Linked DNA regions of Homo sapiens: regions 1, 3 and 4 are each linked to region 2. Evidence: fine-mapped QTL for protein levels in blood plasma. A gene starts in region 2. Each other region holds a variant in brackets. All regions are shown on one strand. Distances are between the middles of the regions. Region 1 overlaps SEC14L5 (SEC14 like lipid binding 5). Region 2 holds the start of NAGPA (N-acetylglucosamine-1-phosphodiester alpha-N-acetylglucosaminidase). Region 3 overlaps SEC14L5 (SEC14 like lipid binding 5). Region 4 overlaps SEC14L5 (SEC14 like lipid binding 5).

The links. PIP is the posterior inclusion probability: the model's chance that the variant is causal. The UK Biobank Pharma Proteomics Project read protein levels with antibody pairs (Olink). The fine-mapping took linkage between variants from a reference panel, not from the people measured, so its PIPs are less certain.
Region 1: its variant is fine-mapped to the plasma level of the NAGPA protein (UK Biobank, PIP above 0.99).
Region 3: its variant is fine-mapped to the plasma level of the NAGPA protein (UK Biobank, PIP above 0.99).
Region 4: its variant is fine-mapped to the plasma level of the NAGPA protein (UK Biobank, PIP above 0.99).

The regions. Positions count from the first base shown.
Region 1 is chr16:5,008,301-5,014,988 of GRCh38, forward strand. It overlaps SEC14L5 (SEC14 like lipid binding 5), which reads left to right. Exons shown (of 16, transcript NM_014692.2): 14 at 121-348; 15 at 2,795-2,973; 16 at 6,559-6,688. The coding sequence ends at 6,670. Among named protein-coding and RNA genes, the nearest start is that of NAGPA-AS1, 22 kb to the right of the region's middle. RefSeq lists enhancers at 2,336-2,859, 2,860-3,383. The variant G/A (reference allele first, on the strand shown) is at 2,812.
Region 2 is chr16:5,030,832-5,038,383 of GRCh38, forward strand. NAGPA (N-acetylglucosamine-1-phosphodiester alpha-N-acetylglucosaminidase) reads right to left here and starts at 3,104. Exons shown (of 10, transcript NM_016256.4): 1 at 2,998-3,104; 2 at 2,442-2,897; 3 at 914-1,053. The coding sequence starts at 3,083. It overlaps NAGPA-AS1 (NAGPA antisense RNA 1), which reads left to right and starts at 2,871. Exons shown (of 2, transcript NR_038913.1): 1 at 2,871-3,230. RefSeq lists enhancers at 2,341-2,842, 3,036-3,215.
Region 3 is chr16:4,999,629-5,007,863 of GRCh38, forward strand. SEC14L5 (SEC14 like lipid binding 5) reads left to right here. Exons shown (of 16, transcript NM_014692.2): 9 at 1,027-1,115; 10 at 1,227-1,297; 11 at 3,774-3,945; 12 at 6,286-6,420; 13 at 7,724-7,858. Among named protein-coding and RNA genes, the nearest start is that of NAGPA-AS1, 30 kb to the right of the region's middle. RefSeq lists a silencer at 1,599-1,790. The variant TA/T (reference allele first, on the strand shown) is at 5,935.
Region 4 is chr16:5,016,041-5,024,275 of GRCh38, forward strand. SEC14L5 (SEC14 like lipid binding 5) reads left to right here. Exons shown (of 16, transcript NM_014692.2): 16 at 1-3,117. Among named protein-coding and RNA genes, the nearest start is that of NAGPA-AS1, 14 kb to the right of the region's middle. The variant T/C (reference allele first, on the strand shown) is at 3,588.

The sequences.
Region 1 (6,688 bases), 23 kb before region 2:
GAGCGTGTGCCTGGGAAAGGAGACCCCAGGGGGCACCCACAGCCCCTCCTGCCACTGTGTTCCCCACCCCAGCTCTACTCTCTCGGCCGTGACTCTCAGACCTCGCCTGTCTCCACACAGGTGGCCGTGGAGATCCTGGAAGGAGAGTCGGTCATCACCTGGGACTTTGACATCCTGCGAGGGGACGTGGTGTTCAGCCTGTACCACACCAAGCAGGCGCCCAGGCTGGGCGCCCGGGAACCGGGGACCAGGGCCAGCGGGCAGCTGATCGACAAAGGCTGGGTCCTGGGCAGGGATTACAGCCGTGTGGAGGCTCCCCTTGTCTGCCGGGAGGGGGAGAGCATCCAGGTTTGCATTTTCTGGACCACTCATTCGCTCACCAAGCAGCACTGAGTGTCCACTGCGTGCCAGGCTTCTGGGGATACAGCGGAGGACATACTGGGCTGCTGGTCCCCAGCCTCAGGGACCCTGCAGGACAGGGCAGAGGAAAGACACACAGGGTCTCATGTAATGAAGTGCTCACCTGCCCAATGGCAGCCGGTGCAAAATCGAGAAAGCACGGGGTGCTCTGCTGAGAGGTGGCTGGTGTCTTGGGGAGGAGCACAGGGTCTGGAACCTGAGTTTCCCCATCTGGGAAATGGGACTTCTAACAGGATCCAACTGTATTTGTTTCTTGGGGCTGCAGTAATGAGTTACCACAAACTACATGGCCTAAAACAACAAAAATTTATTGTCTCACAGTTCAGGAGTTCACAAGTCCAAAACCAAGGTGTTGGCAGGGCCACGCTCCCTCTGAAGGCTGTAGGGAGGGGTTCATTCTATGCCTCTGTCCTAGCCTTAGGTAACTCCTGGCAATCCTGGGTGTCATTGGTGGGTAGATGCATCACCCCAATCTCTGCCTCTGTCTTTAAAGGGGTTTCTTCTCTGTCTGTCTCTCTTCTGAGTCTCAAATCTCCCTCCCCTCTCTCCTGTAAGGACACTAGCCATCACAGTTAGGCCCCATCTTAAATCCTGTTTTTTTTTGAGACAGGGTCTCACTCTATCCATGATCAGGAAACTTTTGCGGGACTGGGAATGTAGTGATATGATCACAGCTCACTACAGCCTCTACCTCCTAGGCTCAAGCGATCCTCCCATCTCAGCCTTCTGAGTAGCTGGGACTACAGGTTCCCGCCACCATGTCCAACTAACTTTTGTATTTTTTGTAGAGATGGGGTCTTGCTATGTTGCCCAGGATGATCTTGAATGCCTGAGCTCAAGCGATCCTCCTGCTTCAGCCTCCCAAAGTGCTGGGATTAGAGGCGTGAGCCACCATGGCTGGCCTCACCCTAAATCCTTAACCACAAAGACTCTATTTCCAGATAAGGTCACGTTCTGAGGTTCTGGCTGGACATGAATTTTGGGGGTACACTGTTCAACCCACTGCATTAACTCAAGCAGGGGGAAGGATGAGCATATTGGAATTTGAAGTTCAGGTTGCCTGCATACATTCAAGTGGCTTCAGTATGGACGAAGACCTTGAGTTGTGGCTGGATCTGGGAGGGGGTGAGAGGGGATGATGTTCCAGGTGGAAGGAACAGAAAGAACAAAATTGAAGCCGCAGGGAGAAGGCAGGTGGACACGAGGGTAGCTTGAGTGCTGGGGAGGGGTTGGAAGTTAGTTTGGATAGAAGGGGAGGTGCTAAGGTCCTGAGGTCAGTAGTCAGATTTCTGATGTGCACTGTGGTTTCAGAACTGATGCAAAAGAAACTGTAGGTCTTGGGCCGGGTGCGGTGGCTCATGCCTATAATCCCAGCACTCTGGGAGGCCGAGGCAGGTGAATCATCTGAAGTCAGGAGTTCGAGACCAGCCTGGCCAACATGGTGAAACTCCGTCTCTACTAAAAATACAAAAAAAAAAAAAAAAAAAAAAAAAAAAAGCGAGGTGTGGTGGCGGGTGCCTGTAATCCCAGCTACTCGGGAGGCTAAGGCAGGAGAATCGCTTGAACCTAGGAGGCAGAGGTTGCAGTGAGCTGAGATCATGCCATTATACTCTAGTCTGAGTGAAAGAGTGAAACTCCGTCTCAGAAAAAAAAAACAAAACTGTAGTCTTGGAACAGAACTTGAACGTGTAACTGGAATATGAGCTGCCCCTGTTGATCCCCACATTCTCCAGGAGGCTGGCATTGCAGGTGGAATGTCACTCTCTGACTCCCGAAATGACACATGCACACACGCAGCACCAGCTCCACGAGCACTGGCAGTTGCTGTCGATCTCACCGAAGTTCCCGGTGGGGAGAGGGTGGAGGGCCGTCCTGCATGTCCCTCACAGCCACTGCTGGGTCCCACTGAACTTCTCAACCCAGAGCAACCCAAAGTGGCTCTTCTTGTAAAAACAAACACTTCCCTTTCTCACTCTCCCTGATCCCTCCACAAATTCTCTCTAAGCACCTGTGAGCTCCCGGCCCAAATCCCTTTCCTAATCCCCTTGGTTTGCAAATCCCACTCAGCAGAGCAAAAGCCCCACAAAATCCAGGTGTTTAAGCACCTCTGTTGTCCTGAAGTTGCACCCCCACCCCCAGGCGTCAGCTCCTCCCCAGATTAAGAGGGAGGCTCTGGTCCCAGGGATATGGGGATAATAGCAAGGATGGCTTCCAGAGGCCCTGACAGGAGGAGTTGCTGGTGGACTGGAGAAAGGGACAGAGGGAGAAGAGCCCCAATTTCCAGGCCTGGTGATGAGAAGCCCATGAAGGCTCAGCCTCCTTGACCTGTCCTCTGGAGGGCGCAGGGCCTCAGGGCAGGGCTGATGTGTTTCAGGGCTCCCATGTGACCCG[G/A]TGGCCCGGCGTCTACCTGCTCCAGTGGCAAATGCACAGCCCCCCCAGCAGCGTGGCCTGCAGCCTCCCGGGTGTGGACGATGTCCTGACGGCTCTGCACAGCCCCGGGCCCAAGTGCAAACTTCTCTACTACTGTGAGGTGCTCGCCTCTGAGGACTTCAGGTAGGAGGGCTCCGGAGCGGGGTCCTGGGCAGGAAGGACCCTGGGGCTGATTGACAATGCAGATGCCTGGCCTCCTGTCTCCCAGCTGGGTCAGCTTCTCCCGGGGTGGGACCCCAGCATGGGTATGGTTGGAGTTCTCAGGTGACACAGCCCCGCACTAGGGTGTGAGGAGAGCCCAGCTCTGCGCGTCTAACTCTGCTTCCGAAGCAGGGATTTTCCTTCAAATGAAACCTTGGGCAGAAGCTCAACTTTTTGGAGCAGTTGGAGGGGAGGAGAAGGGGAGTCTTAAACCCTTCCATGTGGGCTTCCCCTCACTCCTAGAATTCCATGGGAATATTTTAGAATATTCTAAAAGGGTGCTTTTTAGACAACCCTCCCCAAGTTGTTGCTTTCAGAGAGACAGGGAACTGTAATGGTTAAGACCTCCAGCACTTCCTGGTTGCTGTGTGACCTCGGGCAAATCACTTTTCCTCTTTGAGCCTCAGGTGCTTCATCCCTTAAATGGGAACCACTGGAGCCCCAGTCTTGTGGGTTTGTCATGAGGATGAGATGGCTGGGGGAAGCTGCCTGTCACCTGGGCATGCGGTGTGCATGCCACAGCAGAAATGAAGGAGAAGGTCTGGAGGCGGAGCAGGCAGTTTCTTCAAGGTTTTGCATTCTGTAAAAGCACTTATGATTTTGCACCCTGCTTCATGATGGATCTGCACTGGTTTTCATCTAAAAATGATGCTTTAAATTCTTTCCCGTGGGGGTAAAATTAAGGCTCAAGGAAGGTGCTGAGTCTAGACCTCAAATTCCAGGTGGAGCTCCAAGGATCCCAGGAGCATGGGCACCCAGAGTGAAGAACACTGGGGCAGAGTCTTTATCCAAGGAGGGGTCCCATAGTTTGTCAGGGGGCTGGCGATTCACTCTTTGTGAAGCTGCATGTTTTGGCCATCGGTCCTCAGTGTGAGGCGACAGGCTGAGGCCCAGGGGGACACAGAGGAATAGACACAGGCATTGGAAGGTTGTCTCTGGGAGGGCTGATTCTGAGGCCGGGCATGTGGAGGCCAGAGGGGTGGGCTGGGCCAGACGCTGCACACCAACCTGTCAAGGGTGGTCACCATGAGAGGACCTTACTGCCCTGTCCTCTTGTAGCCTCATGAGAAAATCAGTTCAAAGGCTGTTTCCTGGTCGCCCTCAGGGGGCAGGTGGTGGCTCGGATCGTGGGGGGACCACACAGATAGGGTCTGCCATCATGAAGCAGAGACCAAAGGCTCACACCCAAGTATAACTATGGGCAGCGATGGATGCCATGGCCAAGGCCACTGTGTTAGTCCGTTTCCACACTGTGAGAAAGAACTACCTGAGGCCGGGTGTGGTGGCTCACGCCTGTAATCCCAGCACTTTGGGAAGCCGAGGTGGGTGGATCATCTGTGGTCAAGAGTTTGAGACCAGCCTAGCCAACATGGCGAAACCCCGTCTTTACTAAAAATACAAAAATTAGCCGGGCATGCCTATAATCCCAGCTACTCAGGAGGCTGAAGCAGGAGAATGCCTTGAACCCAGGAGGTGGAGATTGCAGTGAGCTGAGATCGCGCCACTGCACTTCAGCCTTGGCGACAGAGCGAGACTGTCTCAAAAAGAAAAAGGAAAAAAAAAAAACCTACCTGAGACTGGGTAATTTATAAAGAAAGGAGGTTTAATTGACTCACGGTTCTGCATGACTGGGGAAGCCTCAGGAAACTTACTATCATGGCGGAAGGCAAAGGGTCAGGAGAGAGAGAGAGCAGAGGAAGCCACACACTTTTACACCATCAGACCTCATGAGAACTCATTCACTATCGCAAGAAGACCATGGGGGAAACTGCCCCCATGATCCAATCACCTCCCACCAGATCCCTCCCTCAACACTTGGGGATTACAATTTGAGATGAGATTTACTTGGGCCATAGAGCCAAACCGTATCAGCCACCCAGCCAGGAGGTGCTCAGGGACGTAACCTAGAGCCTTGCCAGAGCACAGGACGGGCCTGGCCTAGGGTTGGGAGAGAGGGTGGGGGAAGTAATATGGAACGTGACACTGGACTGAGATCTAAGTAGTGTGGTGGTCACACAAGTCACCAGGGGGTCTTTTTATTTATTTATTTTTGGAGACAGAGTCTCGCTCTGTTACCCAGGCTGGAGTGCAGTGGTGCAATCCTAGCTTACTGTAGCCTTGAACTCCCGGGCTCAAGCAATCCTCCAACCTCAGCTTCCCAAGTAGCTGGGACTATAGGCATGGGCTAGCTTGCCTGGCTTTTTTTTTTTTTTTTTTTTTTTTTGGAGACAGGGTTTCACTCTGTCACCCAGGCTGGAGTACAGTGGCACGATATCTACTCACTGCAACCTCCGCCTCCTGGGTTCAAGCAATCCTCATGCCTCAGCCTCCTGAGTAGCTGGGATTACAGGTGCGTACCACCACCCCTGGCTAATTTTTATATTTTTAGTGGAGACAGGTTTCGCCATGTTAGCCAGGCTGGTGTCGAACTCCTGGCCTCAAGCAATCCACCCACTTCGGCCTCCCAAAGGGCTGGGATTACAGGCATGAGCCACTGTGCCTGGCCACTTTTAAAATTTTTTGTAGAGATGGGGTCTCACTATTTTGCCCAGGCTGGTCTCAAACTCCTGGCCTCAAGCGATCCCCCTGCCTCAGCCTTTCAAAGTGTTGGGATGACAGGCGTAAGCCATGGCACCTGGCGAGGTTCTGCATCTCTAACAAGCTCCGGGCACTGCTGGTGCTGCCAGTTCCCAGACCATGCTTTGAGTAGCAAGGCCCTAAAGCTGCACTGTCCTATCTGGTCGCTGCTAGTCACCTGCAGCAATTTAACTTAGCAAGGAGAATGAAATAAAAGGAACAATTCAGTGCCTCAGTCGCATGGGCCACATTTCAAGTGATGAGCAGCCCATGTGGCCAGTGGCTGGTGTGTTGGACTGTGCAGGTGTACAGCACGTTCATCGCAGGAAGTTCTTGGAGGGTGGGCATGGTGCCTCACGCCTGTAATCCAAGTGCTTTGGGAGGCCGAGTCACGAGGATCTCCTGATCCCAGGAGTTTGAGACCAGCCTGGGCAGCATAGTGAGAGCCCCGTCTCTATACAAGAAAAGAAAGTTCTCGAGGATGGCGCTGCCCTGAGGTTTGGAGTAGGAGTTAACCAGACAGCTGGGGGAGGAGAGAATGGGCTTCTGCCTCAGGCTCAGCGCACACGAAGGCCACTGCAAGAGCTAGGAGGAGGACCATGGAATTTGAGTGCAAAGAGTAAGGAGGGAGTGAGACTGGAGACAGGGCCGGGGACTCCCTGGGCTGTGGCGGCCTTAGGGCCATGCAAGGGCCTCAGGCCAGGGGAGCCCCTGATGGGTCTGTGGCAGGCTGGGCTCCATCTGGGGAGATGGGAGTGTGGGGAATTCGGTAGTGCTTTTCTCTTCATGGCGTCACTTGCTTTTCCCTTTGCATCGGCCTGGGGCCCTGGGGCCTGATTTGCAGCATCAACAGCTTTTCCACTGCTGTGTGTCAGCCCAAGGGCCTTGTCACTGTGAGAGGGTAACGTGTGCCACGCCCTTCCTCCCCAGGGGCTCCATGTCCAGCCTGGAATCCTGCACCAGCGGCTTCTCCCAGCTCAGCGCCGCCACCTCGTCCTCCTCCTCCGGCCAGTCTCATAGCAGCTCCCTGGTCTCCAGATAGCCGGGCCCAGTGTTTCAG
Region 2 (7,552 bases):
CTTTGCACTTCCTGTTCCCTCTGGCTGGGAACTGTGCTTTTCTCTAGCTTGCTCCTTTGTCAGATCACCTCCTTAGTGAGGCCTTCCTTGACCGCCCACTCTTTTTTTTTTTTTGAGACAAAGAGTCTCGCTGTGTTGCCCGGGCTGGAGTGCAGTGGCATGATCTCAGCTCACTGCAACCTCCACCTCCCAGGTTCAAGCAATTCTCATGCTTCAGCCTCCCAAGTAGCTGGGACTACAGGCACACACCACCATGCCTGGCTAATTTTTGTATTTTTTTTTTTTGTAGAGATAGGTCTCACTATGTTGCCCAGGCAGGTCTTGAACTCCTGGGCTCAACCGATCCTCCCGCCTCGGCCTCCCAAAGTGCTGGGATTATAGGTGTTAGCCACCACACCTAGCTTACTGCCCACTCTAAAATGGTCATGGTATCCTGTCCCCATCCCAGTATTCTGCATCCCAGTGGTTCTCAACCTTGAGTGTCGGTCAGAGTCACCATGGAGGCCCGTTAAAACATAGACTCTTGGGCCTTGCCTCTGATTCTGCAGGTCTGAGGGTGTGGGGCTTTGAAACAAGCTCCTGGGCCACGCCGATGTTGCAGGTCCATGAAGATTTTTTTCTCTTCACTTTTCTCTTCCTGTACCCACAGCTCCGGTCCCCATCTCTCCCCTTTCCCCTAACTTTATTTTTGTTTCTGAGCACTTATCAATTCTTTTCAGCATATTCTATAACTATTTTTTGTCCTATATATTCAATATAAGCCTATCTTCCTCCCCATGAATCCCCAGTACCCAGAATAGTGCTGGGCACAAAGTAGCTGCTCAATACTTGTTGAAAGACTTAAGAACAGCTCCGCCCAGCCCACTGGTCCTGGTTCTCGAGAGGGTTGTTGCCAACAGCCTCCCCATCCAACCTGTCTCCTGTGTCTCGTCACACTCTGTGGCTTGGCTCTCGTTGATGTAGATGCTTCCATTACGAATCAGCCACACGACCCCACTCAGCAGCTGCACAAATGGGTTCTCAGTGTCCAGCACCTCCTCCTCAGACAGGTACCTGGATCCGGGGAAGGTGGGAAGCTCACTCACCAGCAGGGGCAACTGCAGATAGTCAGGCTCTTTCTCCCTAGCCATCCCAACCTGGCTGCTAGATTCCCCCTCATGCCCCAGGAACCTCCTGGGGCCTGAGTGTAGCTGGGACAACTTAACAGCCCTAGGAATCTCCCTGTTGTCAGAGCTGAAGCTGGACAGGGTTCTGACAATACAATCCCCACAAGCCTTTGCAAACAGTCTGTTTCATTTAACAGAAATGACCATCCCCCAACAGAGCTCAAATCCATCTATGGCCCTCAATCCCCAGGCCATACCCAGCCCAACTACCACTTGATCCCTGTTACGGCCCTTCATTGGCTTCCTTGTTTCTCCACTGCTCTCTCCCACCTGGTCCCACTCAGGATCAGAACAAGCTTTATCATCAACAAATACTTTTTTTTTGAGACTCAAATAATTTTTAAGATAATTTTAAATAATTCAAATCATCAATCTTGCCAGGGCGTGGTGGCTCACACCTGTCATCCCAGCACTTTGGGAGGCTGAGGTGGGTGGATCACTTGAGGTCAGGAGTTCGAGACCGGCCAGGCCAATATGGTGAACCCACTCCCCCGTTCCCCACCCCATCCCGTCTCTACTAAAAATACAAAAATCAGCCGGGCGTGGTGGCACACGTCCGTAGTCCCAGCTACTCCAGAGGCTGAGGCAGGAGAATCGCTTGAACCCGGGAGGCAGAGGTTGCAGTGAGCCGGTATCATGCCACTGCCCTCCATCCTGGGCAACAGAGCAAGACTCTGTCTCAAAAAAAAAAAAATCATCAGTCTTGATGAGTTGATGTTTCTGACACCCCACTCCTTTTTCAGTCCCTCATACACACAAGCCCCCCTGAGCCTCTGAGCCTTTGTGCGTGGGGTTCCTTTGGACTGAAACGCTCTTCCTCCAGTTCTGACCTTGGCTCACTTAGTGATTCATCTTCAAGTTCCCACTCAAAGGTCACCTCGGAGAGGCGTGTTCCAGATCACCCTCCCTAAAATCAACACTATTTACAACGGGTTCACCCCGTTGGTTGCTTTGCTGCACACACAGCAATCAGAATGTATGTTAGCTATTTACCCGGCTTTTGTTGATTTTTCTAGTAATGGGGGAGGGCTGTTAAGGCAAAGACTGTGTTGTTCACGGCTATCTCACCGGGGCGCGGCACATTGCCTGATACAAGCAAGTGCTCAATGATACTGGATGATGAATAAACTCTGCAAGGAAGCGATTCCTATCCCCATTCTGCAGAGGAGGAAACAGGGGCTCAGCTTGGTTAAGTGACTTGAACACGGAGGCACGGCTACAACCCAAATCTCAGGCCCTCTGCCCTCGACAGCACGGGGCTCCCTGCCTCCTCACCCGGTGACCAGGGTCCCGTCGCGGCGGATCCCGAACTGCGCGTTCTGCAGCCCCCCGGAGCTGCTCACCCGCCGCTCGTCGCTCACCACGTTCCCCAGGCACTCGCCCGAGTTCATGCGGAAGAAGCCGCCGTTCTGGGCGACACGGCAGTCGGCCGCCCGCGCCGTCTCCTCCACGGTGGCGCGTCGTCTCGCCGCGCAGCCGCCGGGTCCACCGGGCTCCAGCACCGAGAAGGTGCGCAGGGGCTCAACGGCCCGCGTCAGGTGGCCGGCCACCGCGCGGTCCCTGAAGTGCGACACGAAGGTGCGCACGGCCAGACCGCCGGCGCCGGGAGTCGCGGGAGGCGGAGGCCAACTCTCGTGCTCGCGGTTGCCGGCGCGCACCCGTGTGCAGTCCCGGGGGAGGCGCGCGCGCGCGCGTGGATAGGGCAGTAGCAAGTCGTCGTCGCGGGAGGCCCTGCGGGGACGGGCGGCCGTGAGCTCAGGGGGCTGTCCTCGTGAGCTCGGAGGACAGGGGGGACCCCCCGAACCAGGCTGGCCCAGGGAGCTGCACTCACCCCGAGTCGAGGCCGCCGGACGCTTCCCAGAGGAAGCCGAATAGTGCAAGCCGGAGGAGAAGCCAGCGACCCGTGGAGGTCGCCATATTGGACCGGGGCCTCGGGTCATGTGGGCTCGCCTCACGTGACTCAAGTCCCAGGGTGGCCGCTTTCAGCTCGGACTGAATTACCTGCGCTCTTTTCGGCTGGCGGGCTGGCGGGCGGTGCTGGTGATGTTAACTTTTTATCTCCAGGTAATCTCAAACCTACAGGAAGTTGCAAGGAGAGCATAAAGAACTCTCGTAGAACTGTTATTCATGTTTAGCAGTGGTTTAGGCTTGCCTGATTTACTCAATCATTTGTACTTTGTTTTTTTTTTTTCCTGAACCAATGGCAACCAAATTGCAGATGTCATGATCCTTTACCCCATACCTCGCCATGAATCTCCTAAGAACAAGGGCATTTTCTTAACCACAGGGCAAATATCATTAGGACAACTCCCATTGACATTTCTGTGATGTCATCCACAGCTAACCTTCAATTGTCCCTCTAATGTCTTTTTTTTTCTTTTCCTTTTTGTCCGCCCCTGACCCTGTAACCCAGGAGTTGCTTTTAGTTGTCATGTCTCTTTGATCTCTTCATCTGGAAGGCTCCTCAGCCTTTTGTCTTTTACTACCTTGACATTTTTGAAGACAGCCCAGCTACATGATTTGTGTGACTCAATGCAAAATGAAAACGTGGGGACACTTACTAAAAAACCCAGAAAACTATTAAGAATTTCAAGATGGTCAGAGCAAATGGTTGCAGCAAGCCAGGGACCTTCTGAGTGAGCCCATGAAGCTGGCCCTGAGTATAGAAGCCAGTTTATTTTGTAGCATGTACTTCAAGCTTCCTTTGAGAGGATTCTTCTCTTCAGGCCTCCTGTCCCAGTGCAGTGTCCAGGGTTGGGTGGTGTCTTGGTGCCAGTGCAGTGCGTGGGCCATTCCAGGAGCCACGGCAAGTCTAATTGGCTTGATACTGTTGCGGTCTTGCCAGTGCACCTTAATATAGCAGTTTCTCCTTGTCTGAACTAGTCCCGGGGTTCTTTGTCCTACCTCCAAGAAAACTAAGGAGCGTGGACACAAGGGTGGGGTTGGAGCGAACGTTTAATAAGGGAAAGAAGAAAGCTCTCCAAAGTGGAGACGGGAGTCCGAGTGGATTGTCGGGTTACAGCTGAATGCAAAAAGCTTTTTTTTTTTTTTTTTTTAAGACAGAGTTTTGCTCTTGTCACCCAGGCTGGAGTGCAATGGTGCGATCTTGGCTCACTGCAACCTCAACAACCTCTGCCTCCTGGGTTCAAATGATTCTCCTGCCTCAGCCTCCCGAGTAGCTGGGATTACAGGCACACGTCACTGCGCCCTGCTAATTTTTGTATTTTGGGTAGAGACGAAATTTTACCATGTTGGCCAGGCTGGTTTCAAACTCCTGACCTCAGGTGATCCGCCTCCTTCCGCCTCCCAAAGTGCTGGGATTACAGGCGTGAGCCACTGTGCCTGGCCGCAAAAAACTTTTATAGGACACTGCTCTCCTCCTGGTAACTGAGTAACTTCTTACCAGTAAAACTGCCTGTGCAGCTCCCCTTATGTTATGCAGCTGTGGGTATGTCTCTAGGCAAGTGCAAATCGCTGCTTCTCTTGTTTGTGTAACTGTGGGTTTGTTTTAGATAAGGCCCCCTCCTCCCTGTGCCGGTTTCCATGGAGCCCACTGTGTATATGCCTGAAAAGGAGAGGAAACTTTTTCCCGGGAGCCTGCTAATTATGCAAAGAACAAAGGGCTTCTGCGCTGGACCCTGTCTGCTTATCTCCGTGCAGGTCCAGCCTGAGTTTTTTCCCAGGTTGCTTTATTTTTGCCAGTTTCTATGACTTTTCAGGCAGGCCACTTCTGAGGTCAGAATTTTCCCCAACGGATTTTTCTTTTCCTTCTCCCTCACTACCACAGGTATGGGGGGACACAGATAGGGGCCAGGCCAGCCCCTTTTCATCCACAGTCAGCACTTCTGGTGCTTGATCTCAGGCCCCTCTTTGAGCCACTGCTCCTTTGAGCCAGTCCACGGTGAGGGTTAGTGAACTCAGTTAGAGAGTGTCCCCCCAAACTCATGTCCTTACCAGAACCTCAGAATGTGAACTTGTTTGGAAATTGGGTCTTTGCAGATGTAATTAGTTAAGATGAGGTCATTCTGGAGTAGGGTGGGCCCTGAATCCAATCTGACTGGTGTTCTTGTAAAAGACACAAATACACACAGAGGAAAGAAGCTCATATGAACACAGGCAGAGATTGGACTGATGCAGTCATAAGTCAAAGAATGCAAAGAAGGCTAGCAGCCACCAAGAGCTAGGAGAGAGGCGTGGGAGAGACTCTTGAGCTTTGACAGAGAACATGGCCATGCTGATGCCTTGCTTTTGGAAACTAATACAATTCAGGGACCTCAAAGGGGTCCCGGGAACAGCTCTGACGCTCCTAGTTCACTTTAACCATGTACAAAATGACTGCTCCTCCTAGAGGCTTAAATGACCAATATATTGATGTGAAGGGAGTATATCTTTCTGAGCTTTGCATTGGGCTGCTAAAAATAACCAGCAGAGGAGCCCAGGCCTGACGCCTACTCCCTGCCTCCGGAAGCGCTCTTTTTTTCTGCCTCAGTTAGGAGTTGCAGGAACAGGCAGTCTTTGGCAAGTTCTGACTTTGGTTTTCTCCCTACTTTGAGGTTTGCTACTCCTTTGCCAAGTTTTTCTAAGCACATAACGGGTGCCACAGAAATTCTGCATTTGAACAGAGCAGCCCATATCCACAGTTCTAGCCAAAGCTGCTAAGAAGCCAAGGGTTTTCTTTTTTGCTCTTCAGCCTGGAATACTTTTGTCCCCTCTTAGCATCCTCATTTGAGTTCTACCATCATTTGTGTGTTCAACAGGCTGAGCACCTCGTATGTGCTCCGTTGCAGCTGATCCCTGCCTTCATGGAGCTTAGCTTTTCAAGGGGAAACAGACATGAAACAGTTATGTGATGAATGCAAGAAGCAAAGGGCAGGACTGCGAGAGAAGGATGTTGCAGGTGTGGCAGGGAAGCCTCTCCAAGCCCCTTTAGACTGTGATTGAAGGAAAGAAAAGATGCGGCTGTGTGCAGATCTGGGCCAGAGCCTGAAGTGGGAAACAGCTTGGGAGGTGCAGCAGGAAGAGCCACCTGGTGGGAGAGGAGGGCCGTGGGGGAGGGGTTGGAGGTGGTGAGCAGGGTTGAAGTGGGAGGGCCAAGGCAAGGCCAGATCGTACATGCAGGGATCCAGGGAAATGAGTATGGATTTCAGCCAAAGTGAAATAGTAAGCCATTGGAAGGTTTTTTTTTAAACTTTATTAAGATAAAATTTACATACTGTAAAATTCTCCTAAGTGTACAATGCAATGATTTGTAGTAAATGCACAGCGATATTCCAGCATCACCATTATCCAGTTTTAGGATTTTTTTTATCACCCAAAAAAGTTTTGTTATGTAATTCTATTATTATTTAGAGACAGGATCCCATTCTGTTGCCCAGACTGGAGTACAGTGGTGCAATCATCGCTCACTGCAGCCTCGACTTCTTGGGCTCAAGCAGTCCTCCCACCTCAGCCTCCTGAGTAGCTGGGACTACAGGTGTGTACTACCACACCAGGCTAGTTTATTTATTTATTTTTAGATGGAGTCTCACTCTGTTGCCTAAGCTCGAGTGTAGATTGAAATGGCCTGATCTTGGCTCACTGCAACCTCAGCCTCCCAGGTTCAAGCGATTCTCCTGCCTCAGCCTCCTGAGTAGCTGGGATTACCGGGGTGTGCCAACACGCCCGGCTAATTTTTGTATTTTTAATAGACACAGGGTTTCACCATATTGGCCAGGCTGGTCTTGAACTCCTGACCTCAAGTGATCCACCCCCGTTGGCCTCCCAAAGTGTTAGGATTATAGGCGTGAGCCACTGTGCCCGGCCCGAAAGTCATTTTTGTAAAACTCTTAGGAAATGGAAACGTCAAAGGATCAATTTCTTCTGTCCGTGCTGTGTATAGTATCTGTTGTGTAAAGGGCTGGGAGGGCATTAACAGCATCCCAGAAACTGGCGTTGAGGTTCTGAGGGGCAGGAGATTCTGTCATAGGCTGCGTGTCTGGTAGGTGGCCCCCACGTCCAGTTGGGTACATTAGGGGTGCCCCTCATCCCATGTGGACTTGCAGGGTGGTGTGGGGGCTGCCAGCTGGGCAGACCAGACTCAAGCACGCTCACAGCCCAAGGTCCCTTCCACCAGCTAAGACCTGGACAAAACATCTCCAGGTGCCTCTTTTTTCTTTTTCTTCATTTTTTCTATTTAATTCAGCAAATATTTTTTAAACATTTCTATGTTCCAGGCTGTATAGTAGGAGCCAGGCACCTGAAGAGGAGCAAGACATCGTCTGTGCCCTAAAGTCATTCACAATCTGAAAATAGAGTTGACAAGCACACAAACGAAGCCAGAGTGAGCTGCCACAGAGCAGTGTAGGGAATGAGATGGGCAAGTAGGTGTGAGGAGGGGAGGAGGCTTC
Region 3 (8,235 bases), 31 kb before region 2:
AGAGGCCAGGCATGGTGGGCTCACGTCTGTAATCCCAGCATTTTGGAAGGCCGAGGCGGCAGATCACTTGAGGCCAGGGGTTCGAGACCAGCCTGGCCAACATTGTGAAACCCTGTCTCTACTAAAAATACCAAAAATTAGCCAAGCGTGGTGGTGCATGCCGGTAGTCCCAGCTACCTGGGAGGCCGAGGTGTGAGAATCGCTTGAACCTGGGAGGCAGAGGTTGCAGTGAGCTGAGATTGCTCCACTGAACTCCAGCCTGGGTGATACAGTGAGACTCTGTCTCAAAAACCAACAAATCAACCAACTAACAAACCAACAGACAAAAAACACCACATAAAACAAGGTTATATATTGATTGGTTGACAAAAAGTATTATGGGGCCAGCTGCGGTGGCTCATGCCTGTGATCCCAACACTTTGGGAGGCTGAGGTGGGTGTACACCTGAGGTCAGGAGTTTGAGACCAGCCTGGCCAAGATGGTGAAACCCCATTTCTACTAAAAATACGAAAATTAGCCGGGTGCGGTGGTGGGCGCCTGTAATCCCAGCTACTCGGGAGGCTGAGGCAGGAAAATTGCTTGAACCTGGGAGGCCGAGGTTACAGTGAGCCGAGATCGCACCACTGCACTCCAGCCTGGGTGACAGAGCAAGACTCTGTCTCAAATAAATACATAAATAAAAATGTTTTGTAGAGAAGAGGTCTCATTATGTTGCCCAGGCTGGTCTCAAAACTCCTGTGTTCAAGCAATCCTCCTGCCTCTGCCCCCCAAAATGCTGGGGTAATAGGTGTGAGCCACTGTGCTGGCCCTTATCCTCATTGTAACACTTCTGTTTTTCTGCCTTTCACAATAAGGGGCGTCAGCCCCTCTTGGAAGCAGGCAGGGTGTTAGTAAGTGAAGGCTGGATCGGGCCTTGGTGGGTTGCAGCCTGAGGAGGTGAAGCTCTCACCTGCAGCTGTGACCTGCCCCTCGGAAGCAGTCCTCTAAATAACGGGCTCTTCTTTCTGCTTGGCCCCATCCACAAAGATGGCCGCCCCCTCTACATCCTCCGCCTGGGCCAGATGGACACCAAAGGCTTGATGAAGGCCGTGGGGGAGGAGGCGCTGCTGCGGCATGTGAGTCAGGGGCCTCGTTCCTGGACGCCGTGCCTGGGGCCGGGCCTGGGAAGGACTGTGTGGGGTAAAGCAGCGAGGCGGACGTTGAGCAGCACTGTCTCTCCCTTCCAGGTTCTCTCCGTCAACGAGGAAGGACAGAAGCGGTGTGAGGGGAGCACAAGGCAGCTGGGCCGTCCCATCAGGCAAACACCTGGGCTGGGCACAAATCCCCCCTAAACAGCAAAGACGGAGGGTGGAGAGGGGTCCACTGTGCATATGTGCTGGGCTGGGCAGCGTGCCAGGGGCTTCATTCTCCCCCAGTTTCTACAGTGGTCTTCTGGGCCTTGAGGCAGGGCCCGTAAGCATCCCCGTTTTCTATGCATGGGGAAACTGAGATTCAGAATGGTGGCCCCCATCGAAGCTTGTGAGCCGGTCAGGACAGAGCTGGATTTGAACCTGGGGTCCTGTCTGGCTTCTAGCTCGAAGACTTTATCCTCCCACTCCACTCAACAGTCTCCTTGACTTTGCTTTTTTTTTTTTTTTTTTTCTTTTTTGAAACGGAGTCTCGCTCTGTCGCCCAGGCTGGAGTGCAGCGGTGCAATCTCAGTTCACTGCAAGCTCTGCCTTCCGGGTTCAAGCGATTCTCCTGCCTCAGCCTCCAGAGTAGCTGGGACTACAGGCACCCGCCACCACGCCTGACTAATTTTTTTGTATTTTTAGTAGAGACAGGGTTTCACTGTGTTAGCCAGAATGGTCTCGGTCTCCTGACCTCGTGATCCGCCTGCCTCGGCCTCCCAAAGTGCTGGGATTACAGGCGTGAGCCACCACTCACAGCCTGACTTTGCTTTTTGAGATCAGCTCTCCACCACGAGTTCTCCCTTGGCTCTGTCATGGCACATCCAGGAACCCAGTGTCCTCTGCAGGAACCCACTGTCCTCTGACTCCCCCGCATTTCTGTTCCTGAACTGTTTCCCGGAGCCAGTACTTACGGTGGCATCGCCCCCAAAGGCAGCAAACCTTTCTGAGCAGCAGCTTCCTCTTCTGTAAAGTGGCTTTTTTTTTTCCTTTGAGACAGGCTCTCACTCTGTCACCCAAGCTGGAGTGCAGTGGTGCAATCACAGCTCACTGCGGCCTTGACCTGCTGGGCTCAAGCAGTCCTCCCACCTCAGCCTCCCAAGCAGCGGGGACTATAAATGTGCACCACCTTGCCCAGCTAATTTTTTTTTTTGCAGAGATGAGGTCTCACCCTGTTGCTCAGGCTGGTCTAAAACTCCTGGGCTGAAGTGATCCTCCCACCTTGGCCTTCCAAAGGGTTGGGATTACAGGCGTCAGCCTCTGTTCCCAGCCTGTAAAGTGGCTTTTACAAATGGATTCTCAAAAATAATAAGGGTTTAAAAATAATGCAAACACGGATCTTGCACTTGCTATGTAGCAGGTGCCCTTCTAAGCACCTTGATTCATTTCCTCCTCCTAAACAGCCCTGTGAGACACGGGCAGGCAGGAGCTGCTGCTTCAGCTTTTCAGCCCCAAATATCCCGATCTTTGTGAAAATTAAAGTTCCTTTGCTGTTTGCAGATTTTTTTTTTTTTTTTTTGACAGAGTCTCGTTCTGTCGCCCAGGCTGGAGTACAGTGGTGCAATCTTGGCTCACTCCAACCTCCACCTCCTGGGTTCAAGTGATTCTCGTGCCTCAGCCTCCCAGGTAGCTGGGATTACAGGTGCCTGCCACCACGCCTGGCTAATTTTTGTATTTTTAGTAGAGATGGGGTTTCACCATGTTGGCCAGGCTGGTCTCTAGAGATTTTCTAAGGACACGTATGTTGGGGTGGAAGTGGGAATCAATCCATTAGTGTCCTGGCCGGAAGCATAATTCACCCCAGATGGCTCAAATGAGGGAGTGTCATGAAGGGATGCTTTGGAGAGGTGTGTGCAGGTTTAAGCGAACAAATCTGGGAGGTGGAGGCTCCCGGGCACCAGCCGCTGCAGTCAAACAGTTATTTTCCTAATGAATGAATACTAATGAAATGGAGGCACAGAGAGGTTCAGGACTTGACCAAGATCACACAGCAAGTGGCAGAACTGGGATTTGAACCTTGGCCATCTGACTGTGGAGTGCATGCTCTCAGCACCTCTGCTCTATTTAGTAGTTAGCATCTTTTCAACAATTAACTCATTTATGCCTGAGGTTGCAATGTTTTGAATTTTTGCAATCAGACCTTGGTGATGACCTTGAGCAGTAGGATAGAAATAACTCCCACACGCTTAGCATTGCAATAATGGAATGCTAGGCCTAAATGGCCACTTGTGATAACCAGCTATAATTGAGGGCATGTGGTGTGCCCGTCCTTGCAGAGAGCTTTGTATATACCATCTCACTTGATCCTAACAGCAGTTGCTTCAGATGAGGACTGTTACTACCTTTGCCACTGTCCTATGAGTAAGTGGGTCTGTGCCCTGACCTAAGGCTCTCAGGGGTGCAGGTGAGACTTGAATTTGGGCGCTCAGCCCTGAAGTCCACAGTCTGATCCTCTTCATCGCATGGGCTCCCTACTGTGGCAGGAGCCCCCATCTGCTCCCAGCCCTATCTCTCGGAGCCTCCCTGTTCATCCCCTGTGGGGAGGGTGTTGGTGGCCTTGGGAGGCAGCAGAGCCAGGTGGAGCTGGGGCTATTTCTGCCACAGCTCCTGGACCTGCCTGCTAGACCTGGAGGGACTCAACATGCGGCACCTGTGGCGGCCGGGGGTGAAGGCCCTGCTGCGGATGATTGAGGTGGTTGAGGACAATTACCCAGAGACCCTGGGTCGGCTGCTCATCGTGCGAGCCCCCCGAGTCTTCCCCGTGCTCTGGACACTGGTAAGAGCTGGAGCCTGGGCCAGGACTCTCCCTGGGGGTGGGTGGGATGGGAGGGGTTCCGTCTGCAAGCAGCTCTGCTCTCTTTTCCTGTTTCATTTCATTTAGTAACTTTTTGGAGATGAAACTCACATAGCATAAAGCTCACACTTTTTAAGTATAGACTCCAGTGGTCTTTCCTGTATTCACTGAGTTAAGCAATTGTCACCACTAGCCAATCCCAGAACATTTCTGTCGCCCCAAAAAGAACCCCCATGCCCATTATCGTGGGTCTCAAATTCCTGGGCTCAAGCGGTCCTCTTGCCTTGGCTTCCCAAAGTGTTTGTGTTATAGGTGTGAGCCACTGCGCCTGACCTGAAATATACTCTATATTGTAACCCGGTGGGTACACGCGTGCATGCACCCATGTGCGCGCACACATACACCCACGCCCACACACACACTCCTCTGAAACAAGGGTGCAGCCAGCCACTTGCATAGTGTGGGCAAAAGCCTGGAGGCTGGACCCAGCTTGATGCTTTGGAGGAACTGAAGAAACAGTCCAGGGTGGCTGAGCAAAAAAGAGCAAAAGGGACGACAGCACCTGAGGAGGCTGGAAGATGTACAGGGGCAATAGGGACCCATGGAGGGTTCAGTAGCAGGGGAGGGTGGGGGACAGACTTAGGGGCCAGGAAGTTCTCTAGCTTTTGTGGGTGCTTCAAGGCTCTGTTCAGGTGAGGCTAGGGGGCAGGAGCTGCTTCTGAAGCTTTTTATCCTGAATTGTCCTAATCTCCGGGAAAATTAAGTCCACCTGCTGTTTGGGGTGGTTTTGGGAGTGCGAGCACATCAGCCGGGGTCCTGGCTGGAAGTGGACCTCACCCAGATGGTTCAAATGAGGGGTGTCCTGAAGGGGCTCCTTGCAGAGGTGTGGGCAGGGGAAGGAGAGACCCCAAGCACCAGTGACTGCAGTAAGCCTGGCCACCCCCAAGAGGAGGGAATGTCCTTGCAGAATCCTGGGGAAAGCTGGGACAGGGGTGGGGGCAGGGAGCTACTGGGGGTCAGCCTCAGCCTCCTGGGGCCCAGCACAGCACAGAGCGCAGTGGGGCTGGGGACAGGAGAGGGCCCTGCACGGGGGGATTGCAGTTTCCTCACCTATCTCTTGGCTTGTGGCATTCCCTGTAGAACTGGCCTGTTATCTGCCATGCCAAGGGCTCCTTCCTTCTTTCTCTCTCTCCCACTTCCTTCCTTCTTTATCAACATGTGGCTTAGAGCTCAGTGTTAAAATGGATTCCATCTGGAATAAACAAACTGTGGAATACTGTTCCATCCATGTAATGGAATAGCATTCGTCCATAAGAAGGAAGGAAGCACTGATCCTCCAACACGGAGGGACCTCGAAAACCTGATGCTCAGTGAAAGGGGCCAGACACGGAAGTCCATGTACTGTGTGATCTCCTTTATATGAAATGTGCAGAATAGGGCTGGGCGAGGTGGCTCACGCCTGTAATCCCAGTACTTTGAGAGGCCGAGGTGGGTGGATCACCTGAGGTCAGGAGTTCAAGACCAGCCTGGCCAACATGGTGAAAATACAAAAGTACAAAATTAAAATACAAAAATTAGCCAGGCATGGTGGTGGGAGCCTGTAATCCCAGCTACTTGGGAGGCTGAGGCAGGAGAATCACTTGAACCTGGGAGGTGCAGCTTGCAGTGAGCCAAGATTGCGCCATTGCACTCAAGCCTGGGAGACAGAGCGAGACTCTGTCTCCGAAACAAAAACAAAAAAGAAACGCCCAGAATAGGCAAATCCACAGAGACAGAGTGTAGATGGGTGGTTGCCCTGGGTTGGGGGAGGGGAGATGGGAAGTGACGGTGGGGTGGGAATGGGGTTTCCTTCTGGGGTGATGAACATGTCTAGGTAGAGGTGCTGGCTGCACAAGCTAGTGAGTGCACTGAAAGCCACTGAACTGTGCACTTTATAATGATTAATTCTATGTTGTATAAATTATATCTCAA[TA/T]AAAAAATACATCCATGGTCAGGCGTGGTGGCTCACACCTGTAATCCCAGCACTTTGGGAGGCCGAGGCAGGTGGATCACGAGGTCAGGAGATCGAGACCATCCTGGCTAACATGGTGAAACCCCGTCTGTACTAAAAATACAAAAAAAAATTAGCCGGGCATGGTGGTGGGTGCCTGTAGTCCCAGCTACTCGGGAGGCTGAGGCAGGAGGATGGCGTGAACCCGGGAGGTGGAGCTTGCAGTGAGCCAAGATCATGCCACTGCACTCCAGCCTGGGCGACTGAGCAAGACTCCGTCTCAAAAAAAAAAAAAAAAAAACCATCCATCTTGCCTTATGTCCTGGTTTCAGATCAGCCCCTTCATCAATGAGAACACCAGGCGGAAGTTCCTCATCTACAGTGGCAGCAACTACCAGGGACCCGGAGGCCTTGTGGACTATCTGGATAGAGAAGTGATCCCTGACTTCCTTGGGGGAGAGAGTGTGGTGAGGCTTCCATGTCCACAGACAGACCTGGGCTTGAGGAGGGGGCATGCCTAGCTGGGAGGCTGGGATTCCCGGAGTGGGGCTGGGAGGTGGAGGGGGGCTGGGTGCGGCATGTGCACTCTGCCTAGGGCAGGTCTTGCTGGCTCTCAGCAGCCACAGGGCTTGCTTTAGAAGCTGCTTCAAAGAGAGGTGATGCTGTTCTGAGGTTGGGCCTTACTCTGGGTCCTTCAAACATAGTGAGTGAGATAGAAGTTTCTGGAAGCCTAAAGATTAGGCCAGTCAAAGGCTTACGCATTCTATATTCCCATCAAAGACATTGCCAAGCAGCAGTGAGTTAACCTGCTCATTCACTGCAGGGGAGGTGACTCGAATGTATCTGCAGCTCTGGACCCTGGAGCTGGGACTAGCCTCCAACCCACAGCCACACAGCCTGAAACGATCAGGAACCCCCTTCAAGGGAGGCAGTGTCCAGGCCCCTTTTATTGCCTCCCCTGGGGTGAAATGACAGGCTGGGGTGATCCTAGGTCACAACTCTGTCATCTCATATGGCCCCCAGTGGCCCGGGCCCTCTTTGTTTCTAACAGAAATACCAGACAGTGAGCTTGCGTCATTTCTGGATTTTAAAAAAGTCTTTTCCTAGGAATTTTTCCAGGCTTGCCTGTTCTCTCCGTTTGTGATGTGCGGCACACACGACTTATTTTTAGCAAACGGTTCTGCAGATCTGAGAGTGGCTTATGGAAAGACACTGAACAGTGTCCTGCTAATCCCAGTGTTTCTACAAGTGAAACGGGGTGGGGGTAATCATTGTTTGGTGGTGGCAGGGGGAGTTCTGCCAAGGCCTGGCCATCTAGGGTGCCTTTGGTTTGGGGAAATCTCTCGATGAGCACGGTGCAGTGACTGTTCCACCCCCGCCTGTGACGGGGAGAGGCAGCTGCTATGGGGTGCGGTGTGGAGAGGCCCCCCAGCCTGGCTGTCAGTCCGGCACCGGGGTAAAGGGACATGAGCATGGGGCTGTGACGAACGTGGGTTTGTGCCCTGGCTCACTCACTTTCTGCTGTGTGATCGTGGGCGAGTGGCCTGACTTGCCCGAGCCTCCATTCCTTCCTCTGTGAAACGGGAAGAATAATAGTCTCTACTGCATTGGTGGACCTGGGGATTAAATGGGGTCATGGAAGCCCACAGCCCATTCAGTAAGGGGTTGCAATTATGAGTGGCTTTGGGGGTCACACATCACCCTTCTGTGGGTCAGGCCAGCCAGGCCTCAACTGGCCCTGACCTGCTGCCCTTTATCTCTGACCTGCAGTGTAATGTCCCCGAAGGAGGGCTGGTCCCCAAGTCCCTCTACATGACAGAAGAGGAGCAGGAGCACACGGACCAGCTGTGGCAGTGGAGTGAGACCTACCATTCAGCCAGCGTGCTCCGCGGAGCCCCCCACGAGGTGCCAGGGCCTGGCCGGGGAGGGCCCGCTGAGCTGGAGTGTCTGTCGTCTTAGGTCAGGTGACCCCAAAACACAGCTTGAGATGAGGATTCTTTTTTCTTTTCTTTCTTTCTTTCTTTCTTTTTTTTTTTTTTTTTGGGATGGAGTCTCGCTCTGTTGCCCAGGCTGGAGTGCAGTGGTGCAATCTTGGCTCACTGCAACCTCCACCTCCCAGGTTCAAGCAATTCTCATGCCTCAGCCTCCCGAGTAGCTGGGATTATAGACATATGCCACTGCGTCCAGCTAATTTTTGTATTTTTAGTAGAGACGGGTTTTCGTCATGTTGGTCAGGCTGGTCTTGAAATCCTGAGGTCAGGTGATCCGCCCGCCTAGGCCTC
Region 4 (8,235 bases), 14 kb before region 2:
ACAAAAGCATGATCATTCATGGGTGCATAGAACTGGCCAGTCCAGGAGGGCTTGCTTCAGGTAAGGCTAGATCCAGGGTCTCAACATGGAGTCTCGATTCCCCCCGCGAGTGGAGGCTGCTGTGTTTGCCCTGGGGCAGATATGACTCTGGAACTAGGTTCAATATTGACATGAGTTCCCCTAGTTACTACACAGGAGCGTCTTGGGTCTCCTTGGGGCCTGAGGACATTTCTCCTTTCCTTTCCTGGACTCCCCAAAAGGCAGCCAGTCAGGGGTCACCAACTTGAAGCCTGATCTGGCCTGCTTTTAGTGTTGCTTTTTTGCCTTTAGAATGGTTTAAAAATTGAGGCATTTCGCATCGAAATCAGGATTTCTGGCTTCCCTTAGGCATTTGGGAGCACCAGCAGAATGGGGTCACTATTGTTGCATGAAGACAACACCTCTGCACCCCTGGATGTGGCCACGCCAGTCCCTACCCCATTGACTTGCGCCCAGCCCACATTACACATCCTCATGACCTGCGTGGCAGGAGTCTCACTGACATGGCTCTGTCAGCAGTGGCTGGTACCCTTGTCTCCTGGCCTTGCTTAGAGTTGGGGCTCATCTCTGCTGCAGTAACTGAGCCAAGGGGTGGTTTTGTGGCCACAAGAATCATCTTTATGCAGGCTCAGCAATGCAGGGCCAGGAAACTTATATCTACGCCAGCCTCAACCCCAAACCCAAGGAAGAGAGAAAGTGTCATCTTTTCAGATACATCCTTCTTCCTGCTGGGAGAGAGCCTTGCCCACCTTCCTGTTGGCTCTCTGTCCGCTTCTCAGGTATCTGAACAAAATAGATTGCTTTGCACTCTGCGTCAAGGTGTGTGTGCACATGTGTGCATAAGAGACCGACTGATTGGAAGGAGACGTTCTCAAAACTAATTGCTCCCATATCACCAGGCATTTATTGCTGAGAGCAACTTGCAATATTTTCAACTATCTTTAAGTGAATTTCTAGCTTTTCTCTTAAAAACTAGGTGTTATCCTACAAGTATGCTGGGATAAGCTGCCCTGGCAGTCTTTATACATTTATTGTCTAGCCCCAGAGAAGGACACAGAAGCCTTTTACGGAAGGAAGCTGGAACTGCCTGTTCCAGAGGCGGGTGGGGGGAGGGGAGTCTGCTATCAGCTGTCCACCCTTAACAGTGGGGGTGAGGAACCTCAGGCCCTTTCAGTTCTGCTCTTGAGAGTGCTCTCTCCCTAGGGAAAACCAGCCCAAACTGGCTTAAGCAACAAAGCAAATTCCCTGGGTCCTGTACTAGGGATGGCTGAAGGTGGGTGCTGCTTCAGATATGGCTGGATCCAGGAGCTTAATGTCCTCAGGCCTCTCAACTGCACCCAGGCCTCTTGACTCTGCATCTCTTTGCATGCTGACCTCATTCTTTCTTCCACCTGGCGGGAAAGATGGCTGCCAGCAGCCCCAAGCCTATAATTTCAGGATTCACACTCTAAGAGATGCTTTTCCATCTCAAATCTCATGGAAGGCTCTGATTGGCCCAGCTCGAGTCACATGCTTATTCCTGTGGGCCACACTGGCAAGGAACTAGGGTCCCGTGATTGACATTCCCTGCAGAAGCCGCAGCAGGATTGGGGAGGGCCATTCCCCCAATGGACAAGAGAAGCTGGACCACAGAACCAGCAGGTATCCATGGTGGCATCTGCTACGGCCGGCTCTCCTCCCATGTGGAGGTCTCGGGGACCCACGTGGAAGCATTATCAAGGTCATTCTTCTTGCCTTCGGGAGGACTGGAATTAAAAATAATCCAAGGAAGGGATTGCCAAGCTTTTGGCTTTTGAATTTCCCCTGAGCCACAAAGGCTGGAAGTGCCTTGGCTTGGGCTTCTTGCATCATTAGTTCATTAATCCATTGTGACCAGGACAGAAGCAACCCACAAGCAGCATTACTGTTGGTGTTTGGGCACCTGGGCCTTGAATTTAGGCCAGGACTCAAACCCCAGCCTTCCTTTCACTAGCTGTGTAACCTTGACCAGGTGACTTAACCTCTCTGTGCCTCAGTTTCCTCATCTGTAAAGTGAGGATAGCAGTGCCTACCTCAATAGGTTGTAGTGGGACGAAATGAGGGAGTAGCTGTAAAGCTTTCAGCACAGCTCCCAGAACACAGAAAGCGCTCCATTAATGTCAGTGGTCATTCTGATTACTTAATGCTTCGCATCCAAAGACTCGTTTTCTTCCTGAGGTCGCCTATCCCTGTTTTTCGTTATTGCACCCAGAGAAAAGTAGGTGTCAAGAATTATTGCCCTCTGAGTTGGGTGTGCAGTCTTTCTCTTTTAGAAACTGCTTGTGTGGGCGGGGCGTGGTGGCTCATGCCTATAATCCCAACACTTTGGGAGGCTGAGGCCGGCTGATCGCTTGAGTGCAGGAGTTCAAGACCAGCCTGGGCAACATAGTGAGACCCTGTCTCTACAAAAAATTAAAAAATGAGCCAGGCGTGGTGGTGCGTGCCTATAGTCTCAGCTGCTCGGGAGGCTGAGGCAGAAGGATTGCTTGGAGGTCAAGGCTGGAGTGAGCCATGATCTCACCCCTGTACTTCATCCTGGGTGACAAAGCAAGACCCTGTCTCAAAAAAAGAAGAAAGAAGCTGCTTGTGTTTTCTGGGTAAGTCCACCCATCTGAGGGAGTGTATTCTGAGTGGTATTTCCCTTGGCAGTTAGAAAATGTTTTTTCCCAGAGGTTGAAGTATGGAGAGTTTGAGACTCTTTTTTTCTACCCTGCACTCTCTGGAATTCCCCCTCCCTGCTGTAAAATTTATTGTCCAATGAGAATAGTATAATTGTTTTCAACAAAGTCTCTTTGAGCCAGTGAAACACGATGGGTTTTTTTGTTTGCCTGATCACTTGCTCCAACCAGCAGCATTAAATGTTTTCCATTTGGATAAACTTGCATCGTCAGCTTCCTAAAACCCTGGAGGTTTCCCGTGGGCTCGTTCAAGAACTTTCCAGCTGTTGTTTAAAAGACTTTAGAGCTAGCTTGTTCAGCCTGTGGCCTGCAGGCTGCACGCGGCCCCGGACTGCTTTGAATGTGCTCCAACACGAGTTCGTAAACTTTCTTAAAATACTGAGGTTTTTTGTGTGTGTGTTTTCTTTGTTTTTTCAGCTCATCAGCTATCATTAGTGTATTTTATGTGTGGCCCAAGACAATTCTTCTTGTTCCAATGTGGTCCAGGGAAGCCAAAAGATTGGACACCCTTGCTTTAGAGCATTTGCAACCGGAGTGATATCACCCCCAAGGGGCTGCATATCTGTTTAATGCAGGTATAATTGTGTATCATATATATTGTATACATATGTAATGGATTGGATAGCATGTCCCCAAATTCATGTCCACCTAGAACCTTAGAATGTGACCTCATTTGGAAATAAGGTTTTTGCAGGTGTAATTAGTTAAGGTTCTCAAGATTGGTTATTGGGCCGTGTGAGGGAGGATCACAATTTTTATATATAAAGCAGAAATAGGCCAGGCGCAGTGGCTCACGCCTGTAATCCCAGCACTTTGGGAGGCCGAGGCGGGTGGATCACAAGGTCAGGAGAT[T/C]GAGACCATCTGGCTAACATGGTGAAACCCCGTCTCTACTAAAAAATACAAAAAATTAGCCGGGCATGGTGGCGGGCGCCTGTAGTCCTAGCTACTCGGGAGGCTGAGGCAGGAGAATGCCGTGAACCCGGGAGGCGGAGCTTGCAGTGAGCCAAGATTATGTCACTGCACTCCAGCCTGGGTGACAGAGTGAGACTCCGTCTCAAAACAACAACAACAGCAACAACAACAACAGGAATGTTCTGGAGGCTGGAAGTCCGGAATCACCATGGAGGTAGGGCCCTGCTCCTTCTGAAGGCTGTAGGGGAGGACCCTTCCTTGCCTCTTCCAGTGTCTAGTGGCACCTCGTGGCTTGTGGTTGCATCACTCCAGTCTCTGCCTCCATCATCATATGGCCTTCCTCTCTCTCTGTGTCTCCTCTTCTTGTAGGGATGCCAGTCATTGGATTTAGGACCCATCCTAAGTCCAGTATAACGTCTTGAGATCCTTAACTAATTCCACCTGCAAAGATCTTACTTCCAAGCGAGGTCACATTTTAAGGTTCCGGATGGACATGAATTTTGGGGCATGCTACTCAACTTATTATGTATGCATACAATAGCTAACCAGATACACAGTTATATCTGCATTAAACAGATATGAAAATCCCTGGTGCCCATCTCTCCTGGGCTGCCCTGCCCTCCCCCTGGGGTTTTACCAAAGTGCCAGACCTGGTGTCCTGGAGAGCTGCATCCCAAAACAGCCACAGTCCTGACGTCAGAAGGTTGTGATGAACCCTGTCCAGGGTGCCACCTGTCCTTCCCGTGAGCTCTCTTGGGGCACGGAGAGTGGAGCTGGCTGCCACACAGATCCTGGGACTCTGAAAAGCCTTCGTCGTTTTGGAGCTGGTGGCTGGGGTTGTCATTTGTGAGAGCAGAGCAGGTGTGGTGTTTTGTGTGATGGCACGAGGGCCATCTGTCCACCCAGCTTCTGCTCCCCAGCCCTGCCCAGCACAGCTCGTCAGGGGAGAGGAGGCGGCTTGCACTTGCGTGTGTTCATGGGCGGTGACTCTTCCGTGGATTTCTCTGGAACTGTGGGTGGCGGGTTTCAAAGGAACAGCCAGCTGACTCGTGGGTGCGGCGGGTATCGAGAAAGAACAGCCCTGTGGGGGAAGATGGAGCTCCGGAGGGTGGGCGGGAGCTGGGATCAGGCCTGAGCTGTGGGGCCCTGCTGATGCCTGTCTCAGCCACAGCGCTTTCCTTGGAGGCCTCCTGGGGCCTGGACCCAGAGCGAGCAAAACATGCCCAGGGCTCCCTGTGGCCCAGAGGCTGCCTCTGGGATCAGTTCTTGGGGCACAGACCCCTGGGACCTCTGCGGAGCCAGGTTGGACGCAAGCAGCTGCAGTGGGAGCTGGGGTAGGGCCTGGGAGGAAGGGAGCCCAGGGCCTCCAGGGATGTCAGAGGCTGTGGCTACCAACTTCTCCCTCTCACTTCCCTGCCTCCCTTAGTGCCCAGCCCCCAACAAGGCATTTTGGAGGAATGCGGATCCCCAAAAGTCACATTTTTTTTTGAGACAGGGTCTCACTCTGTCACCCAGGCTGGAGTGCGGTGGCATGATCATGGTTCACTGTAGCCTCAACCTGCCGGGCTCAAGCGACCCTCCCACCTCAGCCCCAAGTAGCTGGAACCACAGGTGTGCGCCACCATGCCTAATTCTTGTATTTTTTTGTAGCGGCGGGGCCATGTTGCCCAAGCTGGCAAAAAGCACAATTTGAAACCTCTAAGCCAGGATTTTTTTTTTTTTCCGGACACAGACTGCTTGGAGAATCCCATGAGAACTCAGGACACACACACGAATTTCATTTGTTTTGGGGCCCCAAAGAGTCCTTGAAAGCCCACCCATTGACGCCAGGATGGGAACCTTTCTGGGGTCTTTCCGAATACTAAAGTTCTGTGCAGAGCACCCCAGAAGCTGAGACGTGTCACCATGGCGATGGCCCAGCATGTGGAACTCTCAGGGTTCCCAGTTGAGCTGCAGAGACTTCAGTGTGCAGTCCAAGACCACCGTGCCTGTGCCTGGGGGTCTTGAGTCACTACTGTGGGTGGGGGAGGGGACCCTTATGCTGCTGGGATCGGAGCACATGAATCCCCAGCCGGCTTGCCTGCAGTTTGATGACTTTAGCTCTTGTATATTTGTGTCCCCACCAGCACCATAGGTTGGTACTGGAATCTCAGACACTTCTGCCTCCTGCTCCATGTCCTATCTAAGGTCTGCCGTCCAAAATCTAAATGCCTGAGTCCCAAAATGTGCCTCTCCTGTAACAATACAAGTGTCACACGTTTGGGTTGCCGGAGACCCCAAAACCCAATACAAATTGCCTCAAGCAAAAAATGGGAATTTATGGGTTCATGTAATTCGGAAGTCCAAGAATGATCTGGCTGGCTTCAGGTATAGCTGGATCCAGGCATTCAAATCATGTCCCCCCACCCCCACCCCAACACCCTCAGTCTAGTCGTTTTCCACACTGGCTCACCCGCTCCATCTCTTGGTTCTGATCAGGTCTTCTCCACACTGGAGAAGAGTTGGTTTCCGTTCCTCCTCCTTGTGGCCCACCTTGGCCCACCTTGTGGCCCTCCTTGTGTCTAACCTTGGAAGTTAGACAGTCCCAGCAGAGAGAGTTTCTTCTTCCAGCTGCAGCAGAAGTTCCACGATGGGCTCTGACGGGCTGACCCGGGGCAGGTGCCTAACTCTGGACCAATCTCTCAGGCCCACCTGCAACTTGGGGTGAGAAGACAGTGCCACCCAAACCACCTGGATGGAGAATGGGGGAGAGGTACTACCCTGATAGCAACACGCTAGAGGCTCACAGCCAGGGCTCCTGGGTTTTGGGGTCTCCGGCAACCCAAAACGTGTGACACTTGTACTGTTACAGGAGAGGCACATTTTGGGGCTCAGGCATTTAGATTTTGGACGGCAGACCTTAGATAGGACGTGGAGCAGGAGGCAGAAGTGGCCACCTCCCCGGGCACTCTCATTACCATGGAAGGCTTCAGGTCACAAGATGTTGCAACTTTCCCACAGCTCCCTGTGGTTGCCAGGGCACATTCGGTCTCTGGGTAGGGCAGACTGGCACTGCCAGGGAGTCAACCCCCAGGAGCGGCCCTCAACCAATGATGAATGGGTGTTGGCTGATAAATACCCCAGCTTCCTCGCCCTTGTGTGGTGCAACCAAGACCTGTTCTACCAACTGTCCCAGAGGCCCCCAGCAGGATTGAGCCCCTGTTGCCTACAGTATAGACTTGCTCACTCCTGCACTCTGCACAGGCTGCCTTCCCTCCCTGTCCTCTACCAGTGCTTCCTGGGGCCGCCTCCCCAATAAAGTACTTGCTCTCACCTCCTTGTCTTAGTTTCTGCATCTGGGGAATCCTAGCCTAAGACAGGGCTGTTGCTAGAAGAGAGACTGGATGTCGGGCAGGCAAAGAAAATCAATAACACAATGACAAATTAAAAAGAAATTACAGGCTGGGTGCGGCAGCTCATACCTGTAATCCCAGCACTTTGGGAGGCCCAGGCGGGTGGATCACTTTAGGCCAAGGGTTCGAGACCAGCCTGGCCAACATAGTGAAACCCCGCCTCTACTAAAAATACAAAAATTAGCCAGGCATGGTGGTGCATGCCTGAAATCCCAGCTACTTGGGAGGTTGAGGCATGAGAAACGCTTGAACCCGGGAGGCAGAGGTTGCAGTGAGCCGAGGTTGCACCATTGCACTCCAGCCTGGGGAACAAAATGAGACTGTCTCAAAAAAAAAAAAAAAAAAAATTCCAGGGGCCACAGGACTCACACCGCTTGGCATGTTTGAGTCACCTGACCTGGGACCCCTCTAACTTTGCTGTGACAGGCCCTCTTCAGGTACTGCTGCCTCTGGGCCTGGATTCCAGTGCACAGGACTGTCACTTTTCCAACTTAGCCGCCAGCACAACAGAGATGTCCCCTCAGAGGTCATGGTTCTCAGGCCAAGGGTCATTTCAGGATGGTCATCATGGCCATCATCGTGGCCGTGGCGTCAGACTGAGAGTGATCCCTGTAGATTCCAGGATCTGCAGCCAGGCTTGGGAACTGCTCTTAGGAATACACCTGAATGACTCTAAGGCGCCTGACTTTGCAGCTCCTTTTTAAGAGGCAGAGCCCGTTTCCCTTCTCCCTGAATCTGAGCTGGCCTGGTGACTTGTGCAGGCGCCCACCAGGGCTGCCAGATCTTTAAAGAGAAACCAGCAAGCTGGAATTTTTGTCAATCTCTGGACTTTTTGAGATGGAGTCTTGCTCTGTTGCCCAGGCTGGAGTGCAGCGGTGCGATCTCAGTTCACTGCAACCTCCACCTTCCGGGTTCAAGCGATTCTCCTGCCTCAGCCTCCTGAGTAACTGGATTACAGGCTCCCACCACCATGCCTGTTTTGTATTTTTAGTAGAGACGGGGTTTTGCCATGTTGGCCAGGCTAGTCTCGAACTCCTGACCTCAGGTGATCCGCCCACCTCAGCCTCCCAAAGTGCTGGGATTACAGGCGTGAGCCACTGCACCCCCGCCCTTATTTATTTTAAAATCTCTTGACTTTTAAACATGGGTAACTAATTTAAATTCTATAAAAATACTGTGAGGAAAAACTAAGCCCT